Linked DNA regions of Homo sapiens. The gene in region 1 interacts genetically with each later gene. Each region holds a gene or a part of one and is shown in the gene's direction. Other genes may lie near its edges.

Region 1 (7,381 bases):
CAGCTACTCAGGAGGCTGAGGCAGGAGAATCACTTGAACCCAGGAGGCAGAGGTTGCAGTGAGCTGAGATCATGCCATTGTACTCCACCTGGGTCACAGGGCAAGACTGTCTCAAAAAAAAAAAAAAAGAATGAGTTTGGCTCCCTTTTGCTCTCTCTTGCCCTCTCTTGTTCTCCTACTTTACACCATGAGATGGCACAGCAAGAAGACCATCGCCAGAGGCCAATCACTCAGACCCTCACCACAGGCCAATCACTCAGTCTGGCTGGGACTCACCAGTCTTCAGATCTGTGAGAAATAAATTTCTGTTCATTATAAATTACAGGTTCATTACTCTCAGGTTTTATTATAGCAGCACAAAATGAACTAAGATAATTGGCCCCCTGTGTTTTCTAATTACATCAGTAATGCAAACTCATAATTGCACAGCAAACGCTCATTCTAGAAAATGCAGCTATGGAAAACTAATATTAAAAATAATTCATCACACCATCATCCAGAGACGGCCCTGGAAACATTCTGAGACGTATATACTCACACTTTTAAAACATGTATAATCATACTTTATATTATATAATATATACTTTTTAAATGCACACATAATACAGGTTTATAACCTTTTTGTATTAAACAGATCATATAGAATTTTGATATCAATAATTACACTTCTTCAAAATTCTTGCCAATAGAACACAAGTATCTATCATCATTTATTTTGCCATCCTTCTAGTATTGGACTTTATAAACTGCTTCACGAAAGATCCTCCAGCTAAATTCTTGCCAGCATCCTTAATTACTTCAGTTAGATGTGAGACTCATTCAATCAAACAACACATTTTGTGAGCTTTGGCTGACATCTCGTGGAAAGTCAGCTTGTTGCCTATTTCACAGCCTCTGTGTTTGCATCAGCTCTAGGGCAACAGAAAAAAGCAAACCCTTTTCTTAGCAGCCTAATAGGTGGGGTCTGATGTTTGCGATAATTTATCTTAGACTGACATTCTCACCGTTACACAGCAGTTTCTGTGTCAATGCTGGGACCAGCCAAAAGCTGCGCTTCTCCAACCACAGACTGGTGGTAACATTTCCACACCTTTCCAACAGAAACATATTTACATGACAACTCCATGCAGAATAAGTCTCCATCTCTTTTATTTGAAGCAAAATTCAGGCACATTTTATAAGAGCAGCCGTAATATAACTTTAAAGAGAACTATTTCCTAGGCATTTAAACAGCACTTGGAGGGTTGGAAATCCCAGCCCGGCCAGTAGAGGGCACTGTGCAGGGGCAGCCGGAGCCACCCGCCGTCATCTCTGGAAACCCTGTGAGATTCCAAGATGCTGCACCCAGAAACCTGCTGCTGGGGAAGGAGCTGACTTGTGATCCTTCCCTGTTATGTGGGAGTGGAAAGTGGTGGCAAAGGAGTTTGCTTAGCAGGTCTGGAGTAATATGGTTAGGCTGCCAAGGGTGGTAGGGTGAGGTGTTACAGAGAATGGCATTAAGGGAGGAGACCACTCCTCATATTGCCTTATGCTCAATTTCTGCCTCTAAAGAAAGAAGTAAAAACTAAAAGGCAGGAATGAAATCCACAAGCAGACAGCCTGGCGCCACACCCTGGGCCTGGTAGTTAAAGATCGACCCCTGACCTACTCGGTTATGTTATCTATAGATTACAGACATTGTATAGAAAAGCACTGTGAAAATCCCTGTCCCGTTCTGTTCCATTCTAATTACTGATGCATGCAGCCCCCAGTCACTTACCCCCTGCTTGCTCAATCGATCACGACCCTCTCACATGGACCTCCTTAGAGTTGTGAGCCCTTAAAAGGGACAGGAATTGCTCACTCGGGAGAGCTCGGTTGTTGGAGACGTGAGTCTTGCCGAAGCTCCCAGCTGAATAAAGCCCTTCCTTCTTTAACTCGGTGTCTGAGGGGTTTTGTCTGCGGCTTGTCCTGCTACAGCATCACATGAGAAGCATGATACAGGGTTCTTCTTTCTTTAGCTGGAGCACCACTTTAGACCATGGGATGGGGAAAGCCAGTCAGAGACGACTGGAAGACCACCAGGCCAGAACAATAAGGGTTAATGCATGGACTTTGGCTGGCTCAGAAGGAGTTTGGCTAAAGCAAGTATGTTTTGGACTTCAATTAAAGACTTGAACTTGAGATTGAGAAATCTTTCCACTGAAGCTGCCCCCAAACTCCTAGGACAGAGGCAGATGCTTGGATTGTCAGTGAAGCCAGCAAAGGAAATCTTGGAATGGTTTCCCAGGAATAGAGAATAAGCCCTGGGAGACGCCAGTTTTGAAAACTGGTACTATCGTGCTTGTTAGAGAGTCATGGTGAGGCAGGAGAATAGGGAACTGGGGTAGCAAAGGGTTGAGGCATAAGCAAAGGAACAGCAGATGCAGCCAGTTCGCATAAGCAAGAGAACAGCAGGTGCAGCCAGTTTTAAGCAAGATTGGGCAGGACATAGGCTACATCTTCACTCCCGTGATAACAAGAAAGAAGTTTCCACTTCAGCCCCTGAATGACTGCAGGCCAAGTTTCCACTTTAGGCTCTGATTGGTCACAGGCCAATCCTTCATAGGGTGTAACCAATTGGAGGCCTCTAAAGGGTACCCAGGGGTGTTGCCAAGTTCTTTTGGCTTTATAAAAACCCTAATTGAAGAGGCTCTTGAGCTGCGGGCTCCAGTCCGCTCGCACTCTGTGAATTGTCTTCAATGAATCTGTGCTTTCCTTACTCCGTTCTCCTGTTGCTTTGTTTTTCGTTGCTTCATTCCTTTGTTACTTTGTGTGTTTTGTTCAATTCTTTGTTCAACACACCAAGAACCTGGACAACTCTATCTGGTAACAATGGAAGAGTCAATCATCCAAAACTCAAAAAGAAAAAAGAAAATCTTATTCAAGGTCTCAAGTCTCTAAATGGGCCCAGTTAGATGTTTGAAAAGTAAATTATGTGTGGGAAGCACAGAGTCCAAGGAAGAGCATGTTAAGTTTCTGAACACTCCTAAGGAAGGAGGAGGAAGACACCTCGGTCTGTTTGTGAAAATTGGAAAAGGTACAAGTTAAATGTGTAGATCCTGCAACTGGAGAAGACTCAGAGAGGATGTTTATATAGGGAGGAAGGGAAGGAAAGAAACAGGATTGGTAGGTTACCCCATCCAATTCCGTGGAATTGAGAGCTCGGAAGATAAAGTGGCCCAGGGTTTTCTTCCATCAGACTGAAATGATACAGCCTTCCTGTTCCCACCTGGATCAGTCACTGGTGCTGGGCCACCCTGGGGCAGCAGGACCTTGGGTGAGGGAGTTCTCTGCAACTGAATCATCCCAGAATAGGCTGACAACTGAAGGCCCCTGCCAACTGCCCTCCTAGCAGCTGTGGCATCTTAAGGGGAATCAGGCCAGCACATCTCTGTGTCCAGCACAACGCAACACGTTTTGTGGACACACACACTACATGAGCCCTGAAGTTCTTACCCTCCACCCACTCCCACCTAAATTTCCGCAGGACATCATGATAGAATTGCCGTGCAGGCTGAAAGGAGGTGAAGAGCCCCCTCTAAGGGACCTCCTGGTGCTCAGTAATGCTTTTATTTTCAATCACATACTATGGTAATCATATCAGCACAAGCACACAAATGTGGTTAAGTGATGAAGCTGAATGAAACTTTCCTAAGATGTCAATCATAAATTCCATCAACCATACTAAAGACTGATTTATCTTGCTCTTCTCTCTGGAGAAAATATTACAAGATTAATATCAATGAAGAAGCAGAATATGCAATCAGAAATACATAGGGAAAAAGCTGGGTTAATAGAAGTATTTTCCTGGATTTTGTGATGTGTATCGCATTTGTCAGCATCTTTAAATGTGTCATTCGTTGAGACTTATTTTTTCCTTCTAGATGAATATTCGCTATCCTGCCTCCTTTTGGGTTGGTAATTTGGGGTTGTCTTTCTTAGGCCCCTGCCCTGGAAACTGCGCCGGGATCCCAGGCGGAGGGGTGAGGAAGGCGGACCTCGCCCAGCGGCGACACCCAGAGCAAGTCACGCAGAAATCTCCAGGCCGCACTTATCTCCGGTGCACAGCGCGGGAGATGACACGCATCCCACCGGATCTCGCACAGCACCGCTGATGAATAAGCACACAGCTGTTTGTACAACTACCACCGGCCGTGGCGGCCGGAGACCCTCCCTCCCTTCCGCCGGACATTGGGGCGTGGCTGGAAACTCGGGAGTGGATTGGCCGGAAGGTGGGACGCAAATTTGTTTGAAAGGCCCAATCAGTGCCCGGCTTCTCCGCTCTAGCCAATAGAAAACCGAGAGGAAGGCAGGGAGGGCGGAGTCTCCTATTTGAGTTTGTGGCGCGCGAGGCCCTGCAGTCCGGGTTGGCGCTTGGGTACTGGCTGGGTCCGATGCTGGGTACGCTGCGCGCCATGGAGGGCGAGGACGTGGAAGACGACCAGCTGCTGCAGAAGCTCAGGGCCAGTCGCCGCCGCTTCCAGAGGCGCATGCAGCGGCTGATAGAGAAGGTGCGGCCCCCGCCGGTCCGCCGGGAGGGGAGGCCTGCGTGTCGGAGTGAGGCTGGGAGGGGACGTAGGACGGGAAGGGAAGGGGCTCTGAGGACTCGGAGCGGGGGTTGGGGAAGCGGGACTGGGGCTTGGATGCGGAGAGAAGGTGGAGGCGGAGCTGGGGGCTCCGGAGAGGGAAAAAGGAGGCAGCGCCGAAGGCTTCGGTGCGGGGACGGGGAGGAAAGACTGGGGCCTCCGGAACGGGGAGTGGGGAAGCAGGCCTGGGGCTCGGGTGCAGAGAGGAGGGTTTGGTGGGGCTGGGGGTGCTCCTGAGTGGGACGAGAGAGGCGGAGTTGGGGGCTCCGCTGCAGAGACCGCGTTTGGGGCGCCCCAGGCCAGACTAACGGCCTCTCACGGGCTGGCGCCGCCTCCTCCCGGGTCTGGGGCCCCTCGTGGCCCTGGAACCTGACAGGAAGCCCCTTCCTCCTCCGCAGTACAACCAGCCCTTCGAGGACACCCCGGTGGTGCAAATGGCCACGCTGACCTACGAGACGCCACAGGGTAAGGGTCTTCCCCACCTTCTGAGTATTCGGGTGAAGAGTGTGAATGGAGTAGTTGAAATGCTGTCCCTGCTCTCTTAAGAAGTAAACATTGTTCACCTAACTAATAGGAACCAAAACATTGGTGCCCTTAAACCTGTAAATTACTTGAATTACTTATTAGAACAATTCCTGAAGAGACATAGGTGCCTCCTGGCTCACATGCCTCCGGCTTACCGGGTTGGCATCCCCGCTGGCCACCTCCCCACCATGGCAGCGTGGGGCAGTTGCTTAGCTGGACTGGTCTCAGTGTCTTCATCTGTGAAATGGGAAGGATGATGACAATAATGTCTCCTGGGCGTGGGTGTTGTAACAGTCACGTACAATCCCTATGAAACTGTGAACAGTACCCCGCCCCGCACTGTGAATACTCACATTGACTATTGTTTGCCCTGTTTAACTTGGAGTAGTAACTGTCTTCCTTGAGGCTCCAAGTACTTGAATAGGGAGGAGAAGGCATTCCGTTTAATAGTTAATGTAAACGGACTGAAATCTTGTGGATTCTTTTTGGTAAATAGCTGGTGACACTTTGCACTGGCTGGGGTCAATTCCTCCCATATAGCTTTATAACTAACTCAGTATCACTTAATGAAAACAAACCTCAGAGCAAGTTCTATGTTGCATTAAACGGACACAGAAGGTTCACAAGATCTGCTCCTTGAGTTAAAAGAAATCCTACCTTTCTGCCTTTATAGCCAATCCAGACACATCTTGGGTGAAAAGTTTACACAGGCAGAAACTAAAATATTCCAGTGGCAGGTCTGCTACCCTTTGGTCTCTGTATAACATGTAGATTGCCCTTAGAAAGCATTCATTCAGTATATGGGATGTAGAGATTGCCTGCGAAAAGTGCTTACTCCCTCTATATGGTATATAGATTGCCCTCTATATATTTTAAGGACAGTCGCTGTCATATGTTCCTTGTTTTCATTTAACTTTTTGGGCTAATGATGTAATTTGATGAGCCGTTTTCTAGTAGGTAGGAGAGATTTCCATGAATGACGAATTTGCCTTAAAAACCTGAAACTTTACAAAGAGGAACAATCGCAGGGTATCAGAAACCTGGCTTGGTTTTAATATTGTACCTTTTTTTTGCCTGTCACTTTGGCATCTGGTGAACACAGATTGAGCAGAAGTTCAGCGTTCAGGATTATGTAAATGGTCATTTTTGTTTCTTTTCTTCAGGATTGAGAATTTGGGGTGGAAGACTAATAAAGGAAAGAAACGAAGGAGAGATCCAGGTATTTAGTGTCAAATTTTATTGCCAAATAACCTTGCTGTGGAGGAGTATTCATATGAATAAAGGTGTGGGTATGCCCAACCTCTGAGCTTACGCAGAGGCCACCACGGGGCACTTTTTCTCATGATTATACTCTTTCTGTTTTTAAGGATTTAGAAGCATTTCTTCTGTAGCTTGTCAAGTGCAAGGAGTCACTGTGTAATATTTGGCCTTTTTCATCACCCTGTGTTTCCTGTGTCACAGGCTGAGGGGCTCTGATAATACATGTGCAGAGGCTGGGCCAGTTGGGTAACCCTCCCCAAGGTCACGTGCCAGCCCAGCGAGGCACTCACTTTGTTTGGGTCCTTACAGAAAATACCAAATCCAGTTCCTTCTAGGGAAGAAGAATGTCTCTCTTCCTGTTTTGAAAGGGGAGGAAGAGAGATGAGGAGAGGTGCAGCCTGGAGGATCACACATCTTTCCTTCTGCATTTTTCTACCTTCGGAAGACCCTGGCTTCCCTGCCTAGTTGATCCGAGGGTGTTGTCGCTCTGAGACCCGTTATTTTAGTGGAAGGTGCTGTTGGCCTTTCTACGGGGGCATCCAGGAGCCCTTTTGCCACAGTGGCTTTTGCCAGGTTATCTGGTATTCAGTTAATCACTGCCTCTCAGATGCCACATGGTTCCTCTCTGTGGTCACAGGTCAAGGAACCTGTATGAAAGAATGAAAAACATCAAGATCAATGTGACGATATTAACAGCAAATTTGAAATCAAATCTTCTTGATTAATTATTCTAGTCATAAAAATGTTAAAAGTACATACAACTACATAAATGAGCTGATTCCTCTCTGCAAAGATGGTCACTAATGCTATTTTAGTACAATGTGATTCCCTATAATACATATCTTTATAAATGCATTTTTTTCTCCCTCACTTTTCCGGTTAATACATCTGGCAAACTCTTCTCTTCATCAACTGTTGTATAATTATAAAATTATATAATTATTTAAAAAATCATGTTTTTTTAACTGCTCTCCTGTTGATAGGCAATT
Region 2 (6,925 bases), about 210 Mb from region 1:
TAAAGATATAAACCGGGTGCGGTGGCTCACGCCTGTAATCCCAGCACTTTGGGAGGCTGAGGTGGGTGGATCACGAGGTCAGGAGATCGAGACCATCCTGGCTAACACGGTGAAACCCCGTCTCTACTAAAAGTACAAAAAATTAGCCGGGCATGGTGGCGGGGGCCTGTAGTCCCAGCTACTTGGGAGGCTGAGGCAGGAGAATGGTGTGAACCTGGGAGGCGGAGCTTGCAGTGAGCCGAGATCGGGCCACTGCACTCTAGCCTGGGCGACAGAGTGAGACTCCGTCTCAAAAAAAAAAAAAAAAAAAAAAAGATATAAAGAAAAAATGTTTTTGTATACTTGCAGTGTGTGTTTTAAGCTAAGTGTTATTACAAGAGTCAAATTTTACAGTTCAAAAGCTTATAAAGTTAAAACGTTACCATTAAGCTAAGATTAATTTATTATTGAAGAAGGAAAATTTTTCTTTTTAGAGACAGAGTCTTGATCTGTTGCTGTCACTGGGGTGCAGTGGCATGATCCTATCTCACTGTAGCCTTAAACTCCTGGGCTCAAGTGATCCTCCTGCCTCAGCCTCCCGAGTAGCTGGCACTACAGGCATGCACCACCGTGCCCAGCTAATTGTTTTTATTTCCTGCGGAGATGGGGTCTCACCACGTTGCCCAGACTGATCTCGAACTACTGGGCTCAAACAATGCTCCTGCCTTGGCCTTCCAAAATTTTAGGATTACAGGGGTGAGCCAGTGTACCCAGCCCATTTTTTATACTGTTTTTTTACTGTGCCTTTTCTAGGTTACATATGTTAGATACACAAATACCATTGCATTACAGTTGCCTACAGTATTCAGTACAGGAACATGCTGCACAGGTTTGTCGCCTAGGAGCAATAGGCTATACCATATAGCCAAGGTGTGTGATACACTATACCATCCAGGTTTGTGTAAGTACACTTTATGATTGCACAATGACAAAATCGTCTAACAACACATTTCGCAGAGCATATCCCCATTGTTAAGCATGGGAACTGTATAATGCCTTTATTATATATACATGACTATATAATAAGGGCTATATGATAAGCCAGAGTTACCATGGCACCACAAAATGTTTTTTAAAAAATCAGCCAAGTGGCAGGGTGCGGTGGCTCACGCCTGTAATCTCAGCACTTTGGGCGTGGTGGCACACGCCTGTAGTCCTAGCTACTTGGAAGGCTGAGGCAGGGGAATCGCTTGAACCCGGGAGGCAGAGGTTGCAGTGAGTGGTGGTCGCACCACTGCACTCCAGCCTGGTGACAAAGTAAGACTCCATCTCAAAAAAAAAAAAAAAAAAAATTAGCCAAGTGTGATGGTACATTCCTGTTAGTCCCAGCTACTCAGGAGGCTGAAGTGGGAGGATTGCATGAGTCCAGCAGTTCAAGGCTGCAGTTAGCTGTGATTGCACCACTATACTCCAGCCTAGACAATAGTGCAAGACCCGGTTGTGGGGCGGGGTTAATATATATATATATATATATACACACACACACACAACATAGAATTTACCATTTTAACCAGTTTTAAGTGTACAGTTCAGTGGCGTTAAGCACGTTCACAGTGTTGTGCAACCATCACCACCATCCATATCCAGAATTTTTCATCTTCTCAAACTAAAACTCCCCACCTATTAAATACTAACTCCCCATTCCTCCCTTACTCACTGGCAACCACCATTTTACTTTCTGTCTCTATGAGTTCCGTTATTCCAGGTACCTCATACAGTATTTGTCCTTTTTTTTTTTTTTTTTTGGAGACAGAGTCTTGCTCTATTGCCCAGGCTGGAGTGCAGTGGCACAATCTCAGCTCACTGCAACCTTCCCCTCCTAGGTTCAAGCAATTCTCCTGCCTCAGCCTCCCGAGTAGCTGGGACTACAGGCCCGTGCCACCACGCCCGGCTAATTTTTTGTATTTTTAGTAGAAGCGGGTTTTCACCAGGTTAGCCGGGATGGTCTCGATCTCCTGACCTCATGATCCACTGGCCTCAGCCTCCCAAAGTGCTGGGATTATACAGGCATGAGCCACCACACCCGGCCTTGTCCTTTTTTTTTTTCTTTTTTTTTGAGAGAGGTGCCACTCTGTCGCCCAGGCTGGAGTGCAGTGCCACAATCATGGCTCAGTTCAGCCTCAACCTCCTGGACTCGAGCGATTCTCCCACCTCAGCCTCCTGAGTAGCTGGGGCGACAGGCATACATCTGCACGCCCGGGCTAATTTGTGTGTGTGTGTATCTTTGGTAGAGGTGGGGTTTCTTTCTTCCTTCTCCTCCTTCTCCTTCCCCTTCTCTTTTTTTTTTTTTTTTTTTTTTGAGACAGAGTCTCACTCTTGTCGCCTAGGCTGGAGTGCCGTGGCATGATTTCGGCTCACTGCAACCTCCGCCTTTCAGGTTCAAGCAACTCTGCCTCAGCCTCCTGAGTAGCTGGGATTACAGGCGTGAGCCACAGCACCTGGCAAATTTTTATATTTTTAGTAGAGACGGGGTATCGCCATGTTGGCCATGCTGGTCTTGAACTCCTGACCTCGGGTGATCTGCCTGCCTCGGCCTCCCAGAGTGCTGGGTTTACAGGCGTGAGCCACCACGCTCGGCAAGATGGAGTTTCGCCATGTTGGCCAGGTTGGACTCGAACTCGAACTCAGTGGTTCCGAACAACTTGGCCTCCCAAAGCGCTGGGATTACAGGCATGAACCACCGCACCCCAGCCCAGCATTTGTCCCTTGGTGGACTGCTTTATTTCACTTAGCATAACGTCCTCAAGGTTCATCTATGTTGCAGCAGGTGTCAGAATTCCCTTCCTTTTAAAGGCTGAATAACATTGTGGTATACACCCCATTTTGTTTATCCGTTCATCTGTTGGTGTGTATTCAGGCTGTTTCTGCCTTCGGGCTGTTGTGAAGAATGCCGCTATCAACATGGGTGTGAGAATATCTGTTCAAGTCCCTGGCTATATTTAAATTCTTTTGGATATTTAGCCAGAAGTGGAATTACTGGATCATCTGGTAATTCTATTTTTGATTTTTTGAGGAACCACCAATACTATTTTTCACAGCAGCCGCAGCATTTTACACTCCCACCAGCAATGCACAAGGGTTCCATGAAATCACTAATTTTATAACATTTTTCCTGATTACATGTTCACTGTAGAACATTTAGAAAATGCAAGAAATAAAATTTAGAAAATTAAAATTCCCCTTATTCTACATACCGGGACATGACTTGAATTTTTATTATCCCCAACAAAGGGAAGAGAGCATTTTTTTGGGACGATTGCGTTGCTATAGTGCCGAGGCCTGCCCTGCCCGGACCTTATTCTCAAAGCCCCGCCGATCCCGCCGTCCCCGCGACCCCAAGCGTCAGCAAAGTTTATGCAGTTGAACTGGATTCTGAGTATATCTGTGGATAGTTCCTGGGAGAGTCGCAGATACGACACGGGGTTGTCACATTCTCTATGGGTCTGTTTCCTCATCTTTAAAAGCCATCTCTGCGTTGCTAAGGCAAAGCATAAAATGTTTGAGGAAAGCGACTTTTCTAGAAAGCACGTTCTACAAACACACCATCCACGTTCCAAACTGAGCTTCGGTGTTTTGACTGGAGGGCACCTGAGGACGTCAGTACGGTCCCGCAAAGACCAGCAACCAGATTGGCAAGCAGGGGGCAGGAGAATTTCCCGCCCCATCTCTTTAGTTGTCTATTGGTTGATTTTACCATCAGTCTCCCCTGTCCTCCTATCATCGCCGCTATATTTGTGTCTCGGTGCATACTCTCATTGGCCCTACCTGCAGTCGCTCTACGTAAGGGGCGTTCCAGAGTCAGCCACTGGGAGTCGCTGGATTCGGGTTTTAAAAAACGCCGGCCGTGAAGTGGGCGGAGCGAGCGATTTGAACGCGAGCGGCGCGGACTTCTGCCAAGCACCGGCTCATGTGAGGCTCGCGGCACAGCGTTCTCTGGGCTCCCCAGAAGCCAGCCTTTCGCTCCCGGACCCGGCAGCCCGAGCAGGAGCCGTGGGACCGGGCGCCAGCACCCTCTGCGGCGTGTCATGGGCCCGCGCCGCCGGAGCCGAAAGCCCGAGGCCCCGAGGAGGCGCAGCCCGAGCCCGACCCCGACCCCCGGCCCCTCCCGGCGGGGCCCCTCCTTAGGTAACCGGCCGCGGCCCCATCTCGAAGAGGAGAAAACCGAGGCTCGCAGGCGGAGCCCGGATCTCCCGAGTCCCGATCCCGTGGCACTTCCCTGTTGGGGGACAACGCGGTTCCGCCGTCCGGCATCCGCTCCGGGCACGGGCGGTGCCAGCCCTGCGAGGGGCTGGAGCAGGCGGTTCCGAAAGCGGGAAGGGACCGGCTTAGCCACTTGGCTCCTAACGCCGTCTTCTTGTTAGGACTAGTGGTTACCCAGCGCCCACCGCCCACCGCCAACCAGGCATTGCCTCCCACTGTTCGTGCGTTATCTCAGCTTCATATTGTGCCCATTTTACAGCTAATGAGAAAGCCGAGGCACAGGCCAGAGAGCTTGAGCAGAGTCACACAACTTGGTGTTCTGGCGGACACGGGATTTCCAATCCTCTGTGTTTGTGCATTTTTAAATTGCAAAAGTATTGACTGCTTTCGGTGACGATTTCAAACAGGAGTCCTCTTAGGAGGTGTCTTTCAGGGGTTTTTTTTCCCTTCCGGGAGAGGCTGTTAGGCCTTGAACCGAGGCCCTCTGCGCTGCTCACTCTGTTGCCTTCCAGAGCTTGTGTCCGGGAAAAGGGGCCGAAGTCTGTGTCTTAATTGTCTATGGTGGGCTGGTGGATGGGAGACCCAACGGCAGGAGGAGGCAGATGCCTGTATGGTACATGGTGGCAACAGCTGCTTTACTTATCTCTTAACTCTTGCTACGTAGCTATGAGGAAGATGGGAAGTGTATTGTAGTTTATTTGTTTCATTGCTTTTTGTAGAGACTGGGTCTCCCTGTGTTACCCAGGCTGGTCTCAAACTCCTGGCCTCAAGTGATCCTCCTGCCTGGGCCTCCCAAAGTGCTGGGATTGCAGGCATGAGCCACTGTGCCTACAGGCTTTTTTGGGTTTTTTGTTTTGTTTTGGAGACGGAGTCAGGCTTTGTCGCCCAGGCTGGAGTGCAGTGGCGCGATCTCCGCTCACGGCAAGCTCCGCCTCCTGGGTTCACGCCCTTCTCCTGCCTCAGCCTCCCGAGTAGCTGGGACTACAGGCGCCTACCACCACGCCCGGCTAATTTTTTGTATTTTTGGTAGAGACAGGGTTTCACCGTGTTAGCCAGGATGGTCTTGATCTCCTGACCTCGTGATCCGCCCACCTCGGTCTCCCAAAGTGCTGGGATTACAGGCGTGAGCCACCGCGCCCGGCCGGCTTTTTGGTTTTTTGTTGTTTTTTTTTTGAGACCCATCGCCCAGGTTGGAGTGCAGTGATGCCACGAGGGTTCACTGCAGCCTCAACTTCCCAGGCTCAGGTGCTTCTCCCAGCTCAGCCTCCCGAGTAGCTGGGACTACAGGCATATGCCACCATGCCGGCTAATTTTTTGTATTTTTAGTAGAGGTGGGATTTTGCCATGTTGCCTAGGCTGGAGTAGGTTGTTTCTAGATGTTGCTGTTGCGAATGGGATTTTTTTTCTTTCCCAAAACACGAGGATTTAACCTTTGCTTCCAGCCAACTTGCTGAATTCTCGTTCACCCTAGTCGTTTTTAGTTGCTCCAGTTGGAATTTTTAAGTAGACTATTATGTCATCTGCAAATAACTTTTGAATCTTCCGTTTTCATTTCTACACATTTTATTTATTATTGTATGGTACTAGTAAGGCCCTGAGACTCACTAAGAGTGGTGTTTTGGTCATCTTTGTCTTGTTTGTAATTTTAACAGGAATATTAAGTATGATGTTTGCTGTTGCTTTCCAAGGTAGAAGCATCCTTCTACTCCTGGTTAAATGGAAGGTTTATCTCAAATGGGCAGTCAACACTTCTTGGCAGTCCTACCACCTTTGTCTGGTATTCTTTCTTCAATTTTCGAGACAGAGTCTCACTCTTGTCATCCAGGCTGTAGTGCAGTGGTGCTATCTTGGTTCATTGCAGCCTTGACCTCCTGGGCTCATGCAGTCCTCCTGCTTCACCCTCCTGAATAGCTAGGATGACAGACCTGCACCACCATGCTTGACTATTTTTAAACCTTTTTTGTAGAGACAAATTGTTTTGTCTCTACAGAACAAAAAAAAAACAGCCATCGTGCCTGGCCTTTGTCTGGAATTCTTGCTTTTCCATTCTCCCCATGACTATTTCATACCTTTTTCTCCCTCCTCGACTTCCTACAGCTCCATTCCCCCCACTCACTCTTAGCCAATAATGGCCTTGACTAGGTGTCCCCCTTCCTATCAAAGCCCTTCCTTCTACATGGGGTCTTGGTCATATCCTTCTTTCACCTACAGAGGAGCTTTCTACCTGTGCTTAGATAAATCCAGACACTTCACACTGGCATCGGCACATATGCTCTAGTATTTATGATGTTTTGTTTTGTTTTGTTTTTGTTTTTGTTTTTGAGACGGAGTTTCCCTCTTGTTGCCCAGGCTGGAGAGCAACGGCGTGATCTCGGCTTACCGCAACCTCTACCTCCCGGGTTCAAGCGATTCTCCTGCCTCAGCCTCCCGAGTAGCTAGGATTACAGGCATGCACCACCGCATCCGGCTAATTTTGTGTTTTTAGTAGAGACGGGGTTTCACCATGTTGGTCAGGCTGGTCTCCAACTGCCAACCTCAAGTGATCCGCCCACCTTGGCCTCCCAGAGTGCTGGGATTACAGGCCTGAGCCGCTGCGCCTGGCCGTATTTACGATCTTAAGAGAAAGGGCAGGAGTGTTTCCTTGACCCCACATTCTCACTTCCCTATACCTCCCATTTCCCTCTAC

Evidence for each region.
Region 2: of HJURP (region 1) and CENPA, changing one enhances a phenotype caused by changing the other (phenotypic enhancement), as found in Homo sapiens cells (one study listed by BioGRID).

What each region holds. Positions count from the first base shown.
Region 1 is NC_000002.12:233,851,535-233,858,915, reverse strand, and holds the start of HJURP (Holliday junction recognition protein), read left to right. Parts: upstream 1-4,380; 5' UTR 4,381-4,415; coding exon 4,416-4,532; intron 4,533-5,005; coding exon 5,006-5,072; intron 5,073-6,294; exon of another isoform or gene 6,295-6,295; coding exon 6,296-6,351; exon of another isoform or gene 6,352-7,381. UniProt on the Homo sapiens protein: Centromeric protein that plays a central role in the incorporation and maintenance of histone H3-like variant CENPA at centromeres.
Region 2 is NC_000002.12:26,782,133-26,789,057, forward strand, and holds the start of CENPA (histone H3-like centromeric protein A), read left to right. Parts: upstream 1-3,923; 5' UTR 3,924-4,064; coding exon 4,065-4,164; intron 4,165-6,925. UniProt on the Homo sapiens protein: Histone H3-like nucleosomal protein that is specifically found in centromeric nucleosomes. Replaces conventional H3 in the nucleosome core of centromeric chromatin that serves as an assembly site for the inner kinetochore.